2 separate regions of the Homo sapiens genome follow, and region 2 is linked to region 1. Evidence: fine-mapped expression QTL. Tissue or cell type: whole blood. Region 1 holds a variant in brackets; the other region holds the start of a gene. All regions are shown on one strand. Distances are between the middles of the regions.

Region 1 (8,000 bases):
TCACAAAGGGACAGAGAGAAACCTGACGCCGGGCATCAGGTGACAGGCAGAGAGATGTCTGTCTGGCATTTGCACACAGGTGCAATGGTACCCAAGAGATGCAAGGACAGGTTGGGCATCAGGGGGCGGTGATGACTCACACCATCCGTGCCAGCCTGGAGCAGGGCGGGGGAAACAGACACAGTCATCCAAGTGGGAGTCAAAACACCAGGAAGCAACACTGTGCGGGCTGGGGGACACAGTGGGAGGGTGTCAACTCTCAGAGGAGGGATGGGGAGGGAGGAAGTCCAGACAAGCCTGGAGCAGGAATATTTAGGGCTGCTCCGTAACAACCATGCTACCTCTGGCTGGAAATGACCTTCCCATGCCCCAGTGTCCACCACATGAAATCGGGACGTCTGCGAGCCAGGTTCACAGAGCACCAGAGTCAGGAGGTCCTAGCTAGGGCCCAGGGGCCCAGATTTTAACAGGTCCCCATATGACTGTGATGGCAACCAGGCTCAGAATAACCACGCTTTGCAATGCAGGTGTTATTTTGTTATTTTGGAATGAACAGAAAGGAGCCAGGGTGAGCTGGCCTTGAAAGGAGTGTTCCCAGAGGCCCCACCGGGCTCAGGTCTGGGTCTTCATTCAGGAGGCCCACTGCGCAGTCCCTGTGCAAACCCCGTGGCAGGCAGCAACCACTGGGGCAGGCTTAAGTGTGACGGTGGGAGCAGGCTCGGCGCCAAAGCACACCGGGAGGGGAGCACTGGGGATGATGTGGGACGGTGACCCCGTGGACCCTGGTGAGGACTTCGCTCTCATTCTGCAGGAGACCGGAGCCACTGGGGGCGAGGGGCAGAGCAGCAACAGGATGGATTCAGGCTCATGGGAGGATTGTATTCTGCAGGAGTGGGGTCCCCTGTAGTACTCACGGGGAGGGGACCTGATCGTGCAGGTTGGCAGTCAGGAATGGCACACCAGATTGCCATCTTGGATGGTGACAGCCTCACCTGTCCCTGGGTTTTGGCAGCTGAGCCCCCGCTAGTGCTCCAGCTCCAAGAGGGGTTGTGGGACACAGGCGAGTCAATGCCTGCAGCCCAGGCATCCCCCTGCTTGGCACCCTGCTGGTTAGGTCCTGTGCTGCCTGGACCCCACAGAAGCCCCCCAGCCACCCCAAGAGACATCCTTTTACTATCCCCTTTTCAGAGTCAAGGCTCACAGAGGCAAGAGTACAGACTAAAAGGCCCAGGTCTGCCTCGACTATTATTGTTTTTTTCCATATTAAACTTGTAGTTTTATTCAGGTTTGATTTTAACAAATGTGTTGGGGAGAGAGACCGCAGGGAAGGGTAAAGCCCATGGGGGCAGGACCCCTCCCCGCTCCTCCTTTTCCCTCCCCATCTAAAGGGGTTTGGGGAGAGGCACAGGTACGGCAGGGGGCTGGCCTTAGTCTGTGGGGGTCGTGCTTAGGGTATAGGACCATGGGGAACAGGGGACCAGACCAGGGGTGAGTGGGGAGGGCACAAGGACCATGTGCCAGAATCCACCGCTTTCTGATTCCAGATTGAATTAAAATAAATAAATAAGGCCGGGCTCAGTGGCTCACACCTGTAATCCCAGCACTTTGGGAGGCCGAGACGGGCAGATCACGAGGTCAGGAGTTCAAGACCAGCCTGGCCAACATAGTGAAACCCTGTCTCTACTAAAAATACAAAAATTAGCCTGGCATGGTGGCACGTGCCTGTAATCCCAGCTACTCGGGAGGCTGAGGCAGGAGAACTGCTTAACCCAAGAGGTGGAGGTTGCAGTAAGCCGAGATGGTGCCCCGTGCACTCCAGCTTGGGCAACAGAGTGAGACTCTGTCTCAAATAAATAAACCACAAGCATCGCCCACCGTCTCCCCCCAACCAGGGCTGTAGTGCGAGCAGGGAAAAGGATGGCAGCTTCACCAAGGCCATGGCTTTGCTTGTTCCTGGCCAAGGGAGCTAGGTGAAGGGCAGGGGCTCCCCGACAGATTGAAGGGGTGGGAAAAACAAAATAAAACATCAAATACATTGTGTAGGAAGAGTCCAGCCTACAGAAGGCCAGAGGAGGGGGCCTCTGCAGTCTCAGAAGATCACTGCTGCCACCACTGTCACCCTGGGAGCCAGTTCTTTTGCCATGGCCTTGACTGCAACAGCTGCCTCCTCTGTCATGGCAGACAGCACGGTGATCAGGGTCCCTTCTCCACAGCGGTACTTTTGCTCATCTCCTTGCCAAGGTCTCCTCTGGCAGACGAAGAAGGTCCTCTCGCACCTCCCTGCTGTCCTGGAGCAGTGAGGGGTACCTTCCTGGATGCCAATCAACTGGGAGTCATTCCTTTTGATGCTGGGGACACCCACATTATAAGGTGACAGGCAGTTATTTTTATATTTCTTCCCAGTAAAGATGTCAATACCAACCAGGTGGACCTTGACGCGGCTGTGCTTGCCAGTCTTCCAAGCAGACATCTCAAAGACCTTACAGGGCCAGCCTTTGAGCACCACGAAGCCAGTGTTACATAATGCTGAGCACTGCATTGGGAAGGAGGCCGAGGCCCCTGCATCTCTTGTCTCGAAGTCCAAATCATCTGCCATTTTAAGAGGCTTCGATTCCAGCTCTCGCAAACACACTGACTCAACCTTGTCTTCTCGCTGCAAACCCAACCGCTGCCTCTGGGCCTGCTGCTGCCGCTGCCTCTACCACCCTGCCTTGACTTTAAACACACACAGCTGCAGGCATCACAATATTTTGCTTAAATGATCAGACTAGGCTCTGCAGCAACTACTCAACTCTGCCTTGTAGCATGAAAAGAGTAATAGATAGTATATAAACAAATGAGCCTGGACATGTGCAAATAAAACTTTATTTACAAACTCTGTCGGCTGGCCTGGGCTGTGGCTGCTGTGGATTGTCATTAGCTAAGCTCCATCAGAGATCCTTCCAGAAGGACATACAATAAACTAGGTGACTGCTTTTAGGAAGGTGAGCTGGCAAAGCCAAAGGAGGACAGGGAGAGAGAAACTTCCTTCTCTCTATATACATTTTTTAAAATGTTTAATTTTATTAATACATAATTATTATACATATTTATGGGGTACATGTGGTATTTCGATAAATGCATACAAGGATTGAGTCAGGGTAATTAGCATATCACCTCAAACATTTATCTTTTTTTTTTTTTTTTTTTGAGATGGAGTCTCGCTCTGTTGCCCAGGCTGGAGTGTAGTGGCACGATCTCGGCTCACTGCAACCTCTGCCTCCCGGGTTCAAGGGATTCTCCTGCCTCAGCCTCCCTAGTAGATGGAACTACAGGCATGTGCCACCACACCTGGCTAATTTTTGTATTTTTAGTAGAGACAGGGTTTCACTGTGTTAGTCAGGATGGTCTCTATCTCCTGACCTCATGATCCACCCACCTCGGCCTCCCACAGTGCTGGGATTACAAGCGTGAGCCACCGCGCCCGGCCCAAACATTGATCATTTCTTTATGTTGAATCTCTGTCCACCTTTTTACATCTTTTGAATACTGAGGCACATACAGGTCTAGTCATAAGCCGCATAAAGCCATTTCAGTCAATGATGGACTGCATATGCAGCCGGTGGTCCCATAAGATTTCCCACTATATTTTTACTGTCCCTTGTCTACGTTCATATACACAAATACCTACCACTGTGTTACACTTGCCGAGGGTACTCAGCACAGCCACATGCTGTGCAGGTGTGGAGCCCAAGAGCACTAGACTATTCCAGGTAGCCCAGGTGTGCAGTAGGCATGCCACCTAGGGTTTTTTTTTTTTTTTTTTTTTTTTGAGATGGAGTTTTACTCTTCTTGCCCAGGCTGGAGTGTAATAGCATGATCTCAGCTTACTGCAACCTCCACCTCCCAGGTTCAAACGATTCTCCTCCTGCCTCAGCCTTCCGAGTAGCTGAGATTACAGGCACACGCCACCACGCCAGGCTAATTTTGTATTTTTAATAGAGATGGGGTTTCACCAGGTTGGTCAGGCTGGTCTCAAACTCCTGACCTCAGGTGATCCGCCCATCTAGAACTCCCACAGT[G/C]CTGGGATTACAGGTGTGAGCCACCAGGCCTGACCAGGCCTAGGTTTGTGTAAGTCCACTAGGATGTTCACATGACCATGAAATCACCTAACGACGCAGTTCTCAGAATGTGTCATCATTAAGTGATATAGGACCGTATTACTACACAACTCACACATTAAGGTGAAAGAAACCAACATCACCAGCCCCTGAGCAGCCTGGCCACAGGCCGTGCTCCTGGTGATGTGCTGACTCAGAAGGCTCCCATTCCTGAGGCTTCCGGCAGATAATCAGATAATCGATAGGACCTGGTCACTGCTACATGCACAGGGATGGGCAGGGTGGAGAGAGAAGCTGGGAAGAACCTGGCTTCAAGCCTGGGTGACTGGATAGCTGGTGGGGTCCCAAACCAGGAAACACCGCAACACATGGAAATAGAGATGTCATTTTCTTTTAAGAGCATGGAGGCAAGTATTATTTACATAATCTCAAAAGAGAAAAGAAACACTTATTGTGGTATTTTCCAGAATTCTCAAGCCGGGGAGGTAGGGCGAGGGTGCAATAAAGTCACACCTGGAAACCAGGCCTGAGCTCTTGTTCACGACAATAAATAACCACCAACATGGCAGAGCCCCATTTCCCCACAGCATGCGGGCCTCGAAGCCAGGCGCCTGGGTTCCAATCCCTGCTCCGTCGCCAACAGCACAGAGCAGTGACTGCCCTGGGCCTCCCTGCTGCATCAACAGCACCTTCCCAGGGAGGGCTTGGTGAGCTCACCCAGCCTGGCACTCAGCACCACAAGGCACACAGGAAGGGCCCCTGTCCCTGCCCTCCAGAACCGTATGTTACAGTTGCTGCCACCACTCTGTGCCTGCCACATGCACCTACCCCACAAGGGGGCACCATCACCATCGTTCCACCTCACAGGCTCTGCAGGGAAGGTCCCAGTTGGGAGTCTCATGGCAGGTGAGTGACCGGCCCATGTGGGACAGCGTCTCAAGGAGCAGCCTGGGAATCCGGTGCTGGGCCTCTCTGCAGGACTCTCCATGCTTGTCAGCCCCCACGACTTGGGCACCATCCACCCCTATCTGGATGGTGGGCTGCACACCCTCGGGAAGGAGCCTGGGGCACAGGGGGTGTGGTCCACCTTTCCTGAAGCCTGTGCACTTGCAGCAGCCCCACAAGTAGAGATTTCAGGTCAAGTGAGAAACTCATCCCACAGGGAGCTCTGCCTTGGCGTGGGGTCTGGGAAAGGACGAAGAGGTCTGAGGCCAGAATGGCCCACTTCTCTTCCTGTCTTCCCCTGGGTGGACCAGCCTTGGTCACCCAATCTCTCTCACCCCAGGAGCCTGGATAGGCCTCTTCACTTTACCTTGACTCCCCGCTGTCCTCCCCAAAGGTTCTAGGAGTGGATAGGTGCCCCGTCCCACAACCTCTGTTACAATGATCGGTCAGGGACAGGAAGGTTACAGAGCCAGCCACAGCCGGTCCTACGCCCTGAGATGGAACTCTCAGGAAAGAGGAGCTCTCTTCCCACTAGGGTGGTTAAGACTGCATCCCATTTCTAGAGCTACTGGCAGCCATCCCTGCACCCATCAGGAGGGAACAGCCTTCCGCGAATGAAGCCAGCTCAGAGGAAAGCCAAGCTCAGATATTTTATTTTTTAGATGGAGTCTCGCTGTCGCCAGGCTGGAGTGCAGTGGTGTGATCTTGGCTCACTGCAACCTCTGCCTCCCAGGTTCAAGCAATTCTCCTGCCTCAGCCTCCTGAGTAGCTGGGACTACAGGCACGCGCCACCACACCCGGCTAATTTTTGTATTTTTAGTAGAGACGGGGTTTCACCATGTTGGCCAGGATGGTCTCCAGCTCTTGACCTAATGATCCGCCCGCCTCGGCCTCCCAAAGTGCTGGGATTACAGACGTGAGCCACTGTGCCCGGCCAAGCTCAGAGATTAAAGAGATATTGTTTGATAAAGAGATACTGTGCCTGACACCACACTATTCAGGACCCTTCAGACCCATAAGACAACAAATCTCCTCTTTTTGCTTCAACCATTCTGCCTCAGGCTTCGAATTTAGGAGAATTCCAAGCTTCGAATTTAGGAGAATTCCGTCTTGCCTCTCATCTGGTAAACATTTCCCAAAACCTATTTTTTGGGGGGTCCCCATCTGTCACCCAGGCTGGAGTTCAGCGGCTCAATCATAGCTCACTGCAGCCTTGCACTCCTGGGCTCAAGTGACCCTCCCACCTCAACCTCCCAAGTAGCTGAGACTACAGGCACACCCTACCATGCTTGGCCAGTTTTTTTTTTTTTTCTTTTTTTATGTAGAGACCGGGTCTCAGTATGTTGTACAGGTTGGTCTTGAACTCCTGGGCTCAGGTGATCCTCCTGCCCCAGCCTCCCAAAATGTTGGGATTACAGGTGTGAGCCACCAAGCCCAGTCCCCAAAACCTACTCAGGCCAAGCTCTGTGCTGGCACTGGGGAGACAGGGATGGCTCTGAACTGGTCCCTGCCCTCCAGGGGTTCTTGTCTGGCAGGGAAGGAGCACACAGATGATGCGTGAGAGCGAGGAGGGGGCCGTGCACGCACTGGACTGAGGAAAGGCCAGGCAGACAGGTAGAGTCAGGTCTCAGGGGCCGCCCTTCAGCCTTGTCAAAAAATCTGGACCTCTCTTGGGAGAATTTCTAGGATCATTGGGGGAAAAAAAAGAAAAGAAAAATAGACAATCTGGACCTCTCCACTCATGGGGCACTGTGCTCTGGCCACACCCAAATTCTTCCCGTCCCCCGAAGGGCCCGGTGCTTCCCAGCACCTCACATTCTCCCTCCCCTTTACACATTACACGGTACATGCTCTCACTGCTTACTACTTCTTCAATTCTCAGCTTAGGGATGCCTTCTCCAGGAAGCCCTCCCTGATCCCCACGGTAGGTCAGGCCCCACCCTCTGGGCTCCCCGTCTCAGCCCTGTCCCCTCTGAGTTGTCACCATCTGGAGACCTGTGTGTCTCCCCCACTGGACTATGAGTCCTAGGAAGACAGCATGGGGTGGTCTGTGGTCCACACTGTTACCCCAACATTGCTCCACATGGGGCCAGCCAGGCACAGAGAAGGGGCCAAGACAGGCACAGAGAAGGTGAGTGAGCGGACAGAGGAGAAGCTCACATCTGGCCACTGCAGTAGACCCTGAAGGTAGATGGGGATGTTCTGGCCAGGAAGGGCCCGGTCTACTCCATGCTTAGGAAGATTACTGCGGGGACTTGGCCCAGTGAACAAGGAAGCCTGCAGGCAGGGGAGAGGGATGCCAGGGCCTCAAAGCTGCAAGAAGCTACTCATGTAGTGAAACACGTTCTAAAATTCTAAAACATGCCCTAAAGCATTCCCTGCACAGAATGGTGCGAGCAGCTCTTTACTGAACCCCTTCCCTACCAGGCACTCTGCCAAACACTCGATTACTGCATTTAATCCGCATCATAATCCTGCAGAGTAGAATTTCCAGCCTCTACCACGCTACAGAGGGAATGGTCTTCTGAGGCCACACCTGTGGGAGCGGACAGAGGGAGGTTTGAACCAGAGCTGTCTGTCCTGCATCAGTACCCTGAAGCCCTCAGGCCCCGGCTTCAAACCGGACAGACAGGTTGTGGGAGCCTAGAAATGCAGCCTTCTCGAACTTCAAGACAGGGAGGCTGCCAGAGAGACTGTCTTTCTCTGTTGGGTTTCCAGGATGTGGAGAGCGGGTCCTGCCCTCAGCAAGGATGCGCTCGTAGGTTTCTTCCTGGTGCCTGCAGGAAGACCCAGCCTCCAGAGGCCCTTCACAGGTGCCAGTGCTGGGCGGGAGAGGTGTGGGCACCTGGTCCAGCCTGGGGTGCACTCACCCCTGGGACAGCCCCCAAATGCCTCCAATAGGCAGTGGCCCAATCCCCCACAAGCCAGCTCTGTCCCAGAGCCTTCTGCACAATC
Region 2 (8,000 bases), 52 kb before region 1:
TCAGCCTCCTGAGTAGCTGGGATTACAGGCATGTGCCACCATGCCTAATTTTTATATTTTCAGTAGAGACAGGGTTTCACCACGTTGGCCAGGCTGGTCTCGAACTCCTGACTTCAGGTGATCTGCCTGCCTCGACCTCCCAAAGTGCTGGAATTACAGGCGTGAGCCACTGCGCACAGCCAATAATACAATTTTTTTAAAGCTCACCTTTATCTGGCCCCTTCTGGTACTGCACTCAGCACCCCCCTGCCCCACAACCACCCCACACTTCTCCATTCTAGGTGGAGAGCAGAAATCATCTTCTTCTGTTAAACAGGTTATGGTCCCTTTCCCTTCTGCCTCAGGGCCCTCGCATATGCTGTTCTCCCTGTCTGCAACTCTTCACCCTACTCCCATTTCACCTACTTCCACCTTCCGGGCTCAGCTCCAGCACCACTCATCACTTCCTCTCTCCCGCCCAGATTAGGTCAGGTGGATCCCGCTCCACCTTCATAAAGCTCCTTTACTTCTTCATGGCTCTAATCATGGTGCCAAGAAAATTGTATCTAAATTATAAATTATGGCTGGGTGCAGTGGCTCATGCCTGTAATCCTAGCCCTTTGGGAGGTCAAGACAGGAGAATCCCTTGAGCTCAGAAGTTCAAGACCAACTTGGGCAACATTGTGAGAGCTCGTCTCTATTTTATTTTTTAAAATTAATTATTTTTTATTTATTTTTGAGATGGAGTCTCACTCTCACCCAGGATGGAGTGCAGTGGCATGATCTCAGCTCACTGTAACCTCCACCTCCTGGGCTCAAGCGATTCTCCTGCCTCAGCCTCCCGAGTAGCTGGGATTACAGGCATGTGCCACCACGCCTGGCTAATGTATTTTTAGTGGAGATAGAGTTTCACCATGTTGGCCAGGCTGGTCTAGAACTCCTGACCTCAGGTGATCTGCCTACCTCGATCTCCCAAAGTGCTGGGATTAAAGACATGCGTAACTGCGCCTGGCCTATTTATTTTTGAGACAGAGTCCTGCTCTGTCGCTCGGGCTGGAGTGCAGTGGCACGATCTTGGGTCACTTCAACCTCTGCCTCCAGGGTTCAAGCGATTCTCATGCCCCAGCTCCCTGAGTAGCTGGAATTACTAGCACGTGCCTCGGCCTCCCAAAGTGCTAGGATTACAGGCGTGATACATCGCCCAAAATTTTTGTATTTTTAATAACTACAGGGTTTCACCATGTTGGCCAGGCTATCATCTCTATTTTTAAAAATTAAACTATAAATTATGATTACTAGAACTATCTATGAGAACATCTTATTACTGTTTCTCCCACTGGACTGCGACCTCTGTGAGGGCAGGGACTGGGTGCTATACCCCTAGCCGCAGCACAGGTCAGGTACCCAAAACGTGTGTGTTGAATTAATAAAATACGAGTAAATACAGAACCAGGGCAAAAATCTAGGGCCCCTGATTTCCCAACTACAGCTTCACCTTCCATAAGCCAGGCATGGAGGTCTCGGGACCCCCATTCTCAGAGAAATCAACCAACTCACCCTTAGCTTAGATAGGGAAACAAAAGGAACTAACCATAAGGGTAAATGCTTAAGAGTTTTAATCAGTCCGCCATAAAAAGCTCCTCCCCATTCTCCATCTTGGGGGCTCAGATCTTGGCTTCGGGTTGAGATGAGGGACAGGGATATCAGGCTGGGAGAGGAGAGTAAATATGAATGCGGCTGAGGGACCAGAGCTGGGATCGGAAGAAAACACAGGTGAAAAGGAGCAGAAAGAGACTGCTAACCCCAGTCCCTGAGCCAAGTCAGAAATCCAAGTCCTTTTATAGCATCCAGGAGCCAAATGTAGTGAAATCCACACATCATATCGTTCTTATCTGCAAAGTGCTGTCATCTGGCGCTGAAAGCACCAGGACTGGGCTGAATTGGGCCCGAAGTGCCTGAAGGGTGTCACTTTAGGTCTGGAGAGTCAAGAGGAGACGCCACCTTGGCCTACAGAGTTGAGAGCGAGCATCATCTTGGCCTGGAGGGGTGTGCAGGAAATGCCACCTTGGTCCAGGGAGTTGGGAGGAAGATCCCCTGCCTTGGGTTAAGAGGGGCCATCATTTTGGGCCTGCAGAAGGAAGGAAACCATGGGGAGTCCCCAGACCCCAGGATCAGGGAGGTGTAAGTAGGATGGAGACAGTAAAAGAAAGCAAAACCTATCCCACGACACTGCTGGACTTGGGAAACAGAAATCAGGCTGAGAGGGCGGGGCTAAGCTCAAAGGGGAGGAGGCAGGAGGCAGATGGGAGAACAAAAAGTAGAACCAGCACACGGAACCAGGGCCAAGCTTGGGCAGCAGAACAAGGACCCAGCTGGCTAGGCGCAGTGGCCCACGCCTGTAATCCCAGCATTTTAGGAGGTGAGGCGGGTGGATCACCTGAGGCCAGGAGTTCGAGACCAGCCTGGCCAACAAGGTGAAACCTCATCTCTACTAAAAATATAAAAAGTAGCCAGGCGTGGTGGTGCATGCCTGTAATCCTAGCTACTCGGGAGGCTGAGGCAGGAGAATCGCTTGAACTCGGGAGGTGGAGGTGGCAGTGAGCCGAGATCACGCCACTGTACTCCAGCCTGGGAGACACAGTGAGACCCTGTCTCTAAAAACAAAACAAGGACCCAGCCTAGGGTGAAGGCAGTTCTGGAAGTGGAGCTAGGATGGGAGGCGTAGCCAACTGAGTGAAGGAAGACGGCAGGGAAGCTGTGCCACATCCTGGGTTCTTGTGGGAAGAACGGGAACAAGCTCCCCACCATAAGCAGAAACCAAACTCAGAAAGGCAGAGCAGAGCCCAGTGTGTGGTGGCTCACACCTGTAACCCCAGCACTTTGGGACGCCACAGTGGGAGGATTGCTTGAGCCCGGGAGTTTGAGACAAGCCTGGGCAACATAGTGAGACCTTCTCCCCTCTTCAAACCGACAGAAAAAAATTAACCGGGCAGCTGGACGTGGTGGTGCAGGTCTGCAGTCCCAGCTACTCTTGAAGGCTGAGCTGGGAGGATCACTTGAGCCCAGGAGGTCGAGGTTGCAGTGAGCAGTAATCCCGCCACTGCACTCTAGCCTGGGTGACAGATAAACACCCTGTCTCCAAAAAAAAAAAAAAAAAAAAAAAATTGGTGAGCCCCCAGGGTGGAAACAGATTAAGGAGCAACTATGTAACAAAGGCTGGAGCCAAGCCCCAGGGGAAGGCTCAGAACCAGGCGGCAGGGTCAGGATCGGGAGAGGAACCAGATCTAAGGATAGTGGGGCCCTGGTCTCCGCAGTAGGGGTTGAACTATATCCAATATAAAGCATTATCCAAGGGGACCGGATTAGCCCCCATGGGTGACACCAAGATGGGAGCGGGGGTGGGGGGTGATAAGAGACACAGGAGACAGAGTCAGGTCCCAGAGGCAGCAAGGCCTACCCCCAAATTGCAGTCAGGTTGGGAAGTAGAATCATGGCTAGGCCCGCGGCCCCGGGTCTTTCTCAGGCTCGGTCCCTGGCACGCCGCGGATGTCCGGCAGCAGGCGGCAGCCAGCCACGATGTCCAGACGCTCGGCCAGCGCACAAAGGTCCCCGCGCGCCAGGCGCACGCTGTGGGCCGCCGCCAGCCCCGCCGCCTGGGCTGCCGCCAGCCTACTAGCCAGGGCGGCCACGTCGCGGCCTGCACGGCGGTAGACACCGCTCACGGCGGCCGCCACGTCGTGGTCCAGCCGCGCCTGGCTCTCCGCCAGCCGAAGTTGCAGGAGCGAGCGCGCGGGGGCGGGCGCCGGGGCCTCCTCCGTGCCCCAGGCCTCCTCCGCCGATTCCCGCTGCACCACGAGTGGAGGCAGGTCCCTCGGCGCGGCCGTCGGTTCCGGCTCCGGCTCCGGCTCCGAGTCGGTCTCCGCGGCTTCCCCAGCCACCCGCAGCCCCGTGGGGCGGCCGCGCGTCGGGCCCGAAGGACCCAGGTACAGCTCCTCCTCCTCCGACGAGGACGCAGAGCGCTCGGAATCCGTCTCGGTCGCCTCCCCCGGCACCACCGTCTCCGGCCTCCGCAGGGGCCTCCGCCGACGACCCTGGGACGCCATGGCACCGAACTAGGGGAGAAGAGCGAAGGGACTGCACGTGAGACCGGCGCCGCGGTGGGTAAAAGGCGCAGGTCCTGGATTCCCAGCCCCTTCGCTGATTCTCTTAACGACTTGGTGTCAGCTGCTCCCCGTCTGGGCCTCAGTTTCCTCTTCTGTAAACTGGGTGATGATGGGGGTTACTGGACCCCAGGCTCTTCAGCGTACAGATGGGGAAACTGAAGACCAGCTCGAACAAGGATCTGGGGCCCGAGTTCCCGGAGTCCCAAGCCGAGGTCTTTACGAATTTGCCTCCTAGTAGAGGCCACACCCTCCACCTGGTCCACCATGCCAATCTCAGACCCGGAAGCACACGGGCCCGTGAGCTGCTCGGGACCAGCGCCAGAGTCGCAGAAAGGATGACAGTCCGACTGGACTCTGCTGGGGGCACTCATGGGATGGGAGAAGCGCTAACGCCAAAGACCGTACCCGGCAGCTGACGCTCGGAGCTTGCGAGATCCGCTTCCTAACCCGAGTGCTGCGTTCTCACCGTGGCAGCTGAAGGGCTGTGATTTCAACCAATAGGGGAGCGGGTTGGGCGGGCATTAGCGGCCAAGTCACGTGGATTCGCCCGGCTACCAATCAGGAAGCAAGTTCTCAGCATCAGCTTTGAGTGAGCGTGCAGAAGAGTCACATGAATGGAGGAACCGCCAATAGAGAAACAGCTGGGCCGGCTCTTCCAGGTTGTGCGACGAGGAAAGTCTGGAGTGGACCAATAGGGATTTTAAAAGCCGAGTATGTCACGTGTAACCAGTAATTTGGCCAATAGGAATGCTCGAGAACCCGGAAATAGGGAAGGGACGGCAGTAAGAGCAGAAGATGTTGCCACATGTGGCCAGAGAAGGCGTAGGCCCGCCCCCTAGTGTCCCAGGCTCACGCGCACACCACCTGAGTCCGGGGCGGGGAGGCGGGGCTAGTCTAAAACACCAATGGAAGCCGGAGTAGGAGGGCTCGCGCCATGACGCAAGAGGCGTGGCTTACCAAGCCTGGCCAATGAGAGCTGGAAGCGCTGGGCGCATCTTTAGGCGTGCGAGGAGGGGGCATGGCGGATACTGTGTTGTTTGAGTTTCTTCACACGGAGATGGTGGCTGAGCTGTGGGCTCACGACCCCGACCCCGGCCCGGGGGTGAGCGCCGGGCTCCGTGGGGAGGAAGCGGGGGCCACCAAGGTAACGCCTCTGGGAGAGCGGAGGGCGCGTCAGGCGTCCGGGTTCGAACCCGGCCCAGCCCCGGCCTTGCAGGGCAACGTCTGGCCCTGGCTTCCTCCTTTGGAAAGTGGCGTTCGCGACGGTGCCGGCTCGGGGTTATTGCTAAATTGAGCGCGATGATTCAGGGTAAAGCACTTAGCTCAAGGCCTGAGTAAGCGGCTAGTAATCATAATAATGCTGTTATTGGGCGTGTGCTGAGGACTCGCCTCCCCCACTTACTAGGTGTGCGACCCAATGACTTAATCTTTGTGTGTCCTAGTTTTCTCTTTTGTAAAATGAGTATCATAACGTACCTAAGCCTCAGCGTGGGACATTTATTTATTCGACACCCACTTATTGAGCGTCTGTTGTATTCCAGGCACCGTTCTAAGACAGAATCCCTTCCTTGTGAAGCTTACATTTCACTAGGGGAGTCAAATAATAAAATGAAATATGCCGGCTGGGCGCTGTAGCTCCCAGCACTTTGGGAGGCCGAGGCCGTCGGATCACCTGAGGTCAGGAGTTCAAGACCAGCCTGGCCATGGTGAAACCCCGTGTCTACAAAAATTAGCCGAGCATGATGGCGGGTACCTGTAATCCCAGCTACTCGGGAGGCTGAGACAGGAGAATGGCTTGAACCTGGGAGGCGGAGGTTGCAGTGAGCCAAGATTGTGCCATTGCACTCCAGCCTAGGCGACAGAGCGAGACTTGTCTCAGGAAAAAAAAAAAAGAGATAATGGGGTTTTGCCATGTTGCCTAGGCTGGTCTTGAACCCCTAGGCTCAAGTGATTCTCCCGCCTGGGCCTCCCAAAGTGCTAGGATTACAGGCGTGAACTACCGTGACTGGCCCGGGACTGTGTGTGTGTGTGTGTGTGTGTGTGTGCGCGCACGCGCATCCTGCTCGGTCGCCCAGGCTGGCTGGAGTGCAGTGATGCAGTCATGGCTCACTGCTGCCTCGACCTCCTGGGCTCAAGCGATCATCCCACTTCTCAGCCTCCCAAGTAGCTGGGACCACAAGCGCTGCTGGCGCCACCACACCTGGCTAATTTTTTGTATTATTATTATTTTTTTTAGTAGAGACGGGTTTTCACTGTTAGCCAGGATGGTCTCCATCTTCTGACCTCGTGATCTGCCCATCTTGGCCTCCCAAAGTGCTAGGATTACAGGCGTGAGCCACTGCACCCGGCCAATTTTTTTTTTTTTTTAGTAGATACGGGGTTTCACCATTTTGGCCAGGCTGGTGTCGAACTCCTGACCTTGTGATCCACCCGCCTCGGCCTCCCAAAGTGCTGGGATTACAGGCGTGAGCCACCGCACCTGGCCATGTAAGACATTTTTATTGGCTCTGGTTTCCTTCCAGGGTTAGAAGCCCCAGGGAGGATGTTGCTTGTTACCATCTCGATATACAGATACAAACCTGTCATAAGTTTAAAACATCATAAATCAAAAATGCATTTAGCCAGATGTGGCGACTTGCACCTGTAATCCCAGGTACTCAGGAAGCAGAGGTGGGAGGATCACTTGAGGCCCACCGTTCAAGACTAGCCTGGGCAACATAGCAAGACCTCACCTCTAAAAGAAATTTTTATTTTTATTTATTTATTTATTTTTGAGACAGAGTCTTGCTCTGTCGCCCAGGCTGGAGTGCAGTGGCGCAATCTTGGCTCACTGCAAGCTCCGCCTCCTGGGTTCACGCAATTCTCCCGCCGCAGCCTCCTGAGTAGTTGGGACTACAGGTGCCTGCCACCACACCCGGCTAATTTTGTTTTTTTTTTTTGTATTTTTAGTAGAGATGGGGTTTCACCATGTTAGCCAGGATGGTTTTGATCTGACCTCGTGATCTGCCCGCCTCGGGCTTCCAAAGTGCTGGGATTACAGGTGTGAGCCACTGTGCCTGGCCAAGAAATTTTTAAAATTAGCTGGGCGTGATGACACATGCCTATACTACCAAGAACTCGGGAGGCTGAGGTGGGAGGATTGCCTGGGCCCAGGAGTTCAAGGCTGCAGTGAGCTATGATCATGCCACTGCACTCCAGCCTGGGTGATAGAGTGAGACCCTGTCTCTAAAAAAACATGGGGATTACTCAGTGAACCATCAAAAATTTTTGGACTCTTGGAGCTTTGTCATCATTGGAGGAGACAGACAAGTAAATGAGTAAAGTGTCTGGTACATTGTGTAACTGCTATGAGGAAGATACAGCATGGCCCAGGGAGTATGCATCAGCCTGGGGGTGGGTAATAATGTCCCAACACTCCATATCCTTCCTGGCTTTCAAACGAGAAACCCTGGAGTCCCAACACCTGCCTTGTCTCCCTCACCTGCAGCCCTCCCCCAGGCTCTGCCCAGTCAGTCTAAATACCTTTCTCACGTGGCCCCTCCTCTGCCCTGGTCCAGTGCTTTCCGCTCTCCTGTGAAATGAGCCTGCTCCCTTCTCCCAGCCCATTCCACCTGTCACATCTTCACCATGCTAACAACTATTAATCCTTCAGATCTTAGCGTAACAATCCCTTCCTCAGGGATGCCTTCCCTGAGCCCCCAGTCAAATTTGGATCTCCTTTATACATTCTCCTGGTCTCCCTCTCGCACTTTTTTCTTGGTAGGCTTCATCATACTCAATAAGGATGTATTTGATTTTTTTTTTTTTTTTGAGACGGAGTCTCGCTCTGTCGCCCAGGCTGGAGTGCAGTGGCGCGAT

The links. PIP is the estimated chance that this variant, and not a neighbour inherited with it, causes the effect.
Region 2: BLOC1S3 starts here. The variant in region 1 is fine-mapped to the expression of BLOC1S3 in whole blood (TOPMed, PIP above 0.99).

Annotation. Positions count from the first base shown.
Region 1 is chr19:45,123,164-45,131,163 of GRCh38, reverse strand. The region is part of intron 1 of PPP1R37 (protein phosphatase 1 regulatory subunit 37); the gene reads right to left. It also overlaps the pseudogene EIF5AP3. Among named protein-coding and RNA genes, the nearest start is that of NKPD1, 34 kb to the left of the region's middle. RefSeq lists a silencer at 619-913 and enhancers at 934-1,435, 5,020-5,159. The variant G/C (reference allele first, on the strand shown) is at 4,062.
Region 2 is chr19:45,175,379-45,183,378 of GRCh38, reverse strand. BLOC1S3 (biogenesis of lysosomal organelles complex 1 subunit 3) reads right to left here and starts at 4,595. Exons shown (of 2, transcript NM_212550.5): 1 at 4,548-4,595; 2 at 1,579-4,091. The coding sequence starts at 4,082. The coding sequence ends at 3,474. It overlaps TRAPPC6A (trafficking protein particle complex subunit 6A), which reads left to right and starts at 5,142. Exons shown (of 6, transcript NM_001270891.2): 1 at 5,142-5,244. The coding sequence starts at 5,161. RefSeq lists enhancers at 2,381-2,882, 3,308-3,808, 4,349-4,668, 4,739-4,808, 4,821-5,764 and silencers at 3,689-3,998, 5,169-5,388.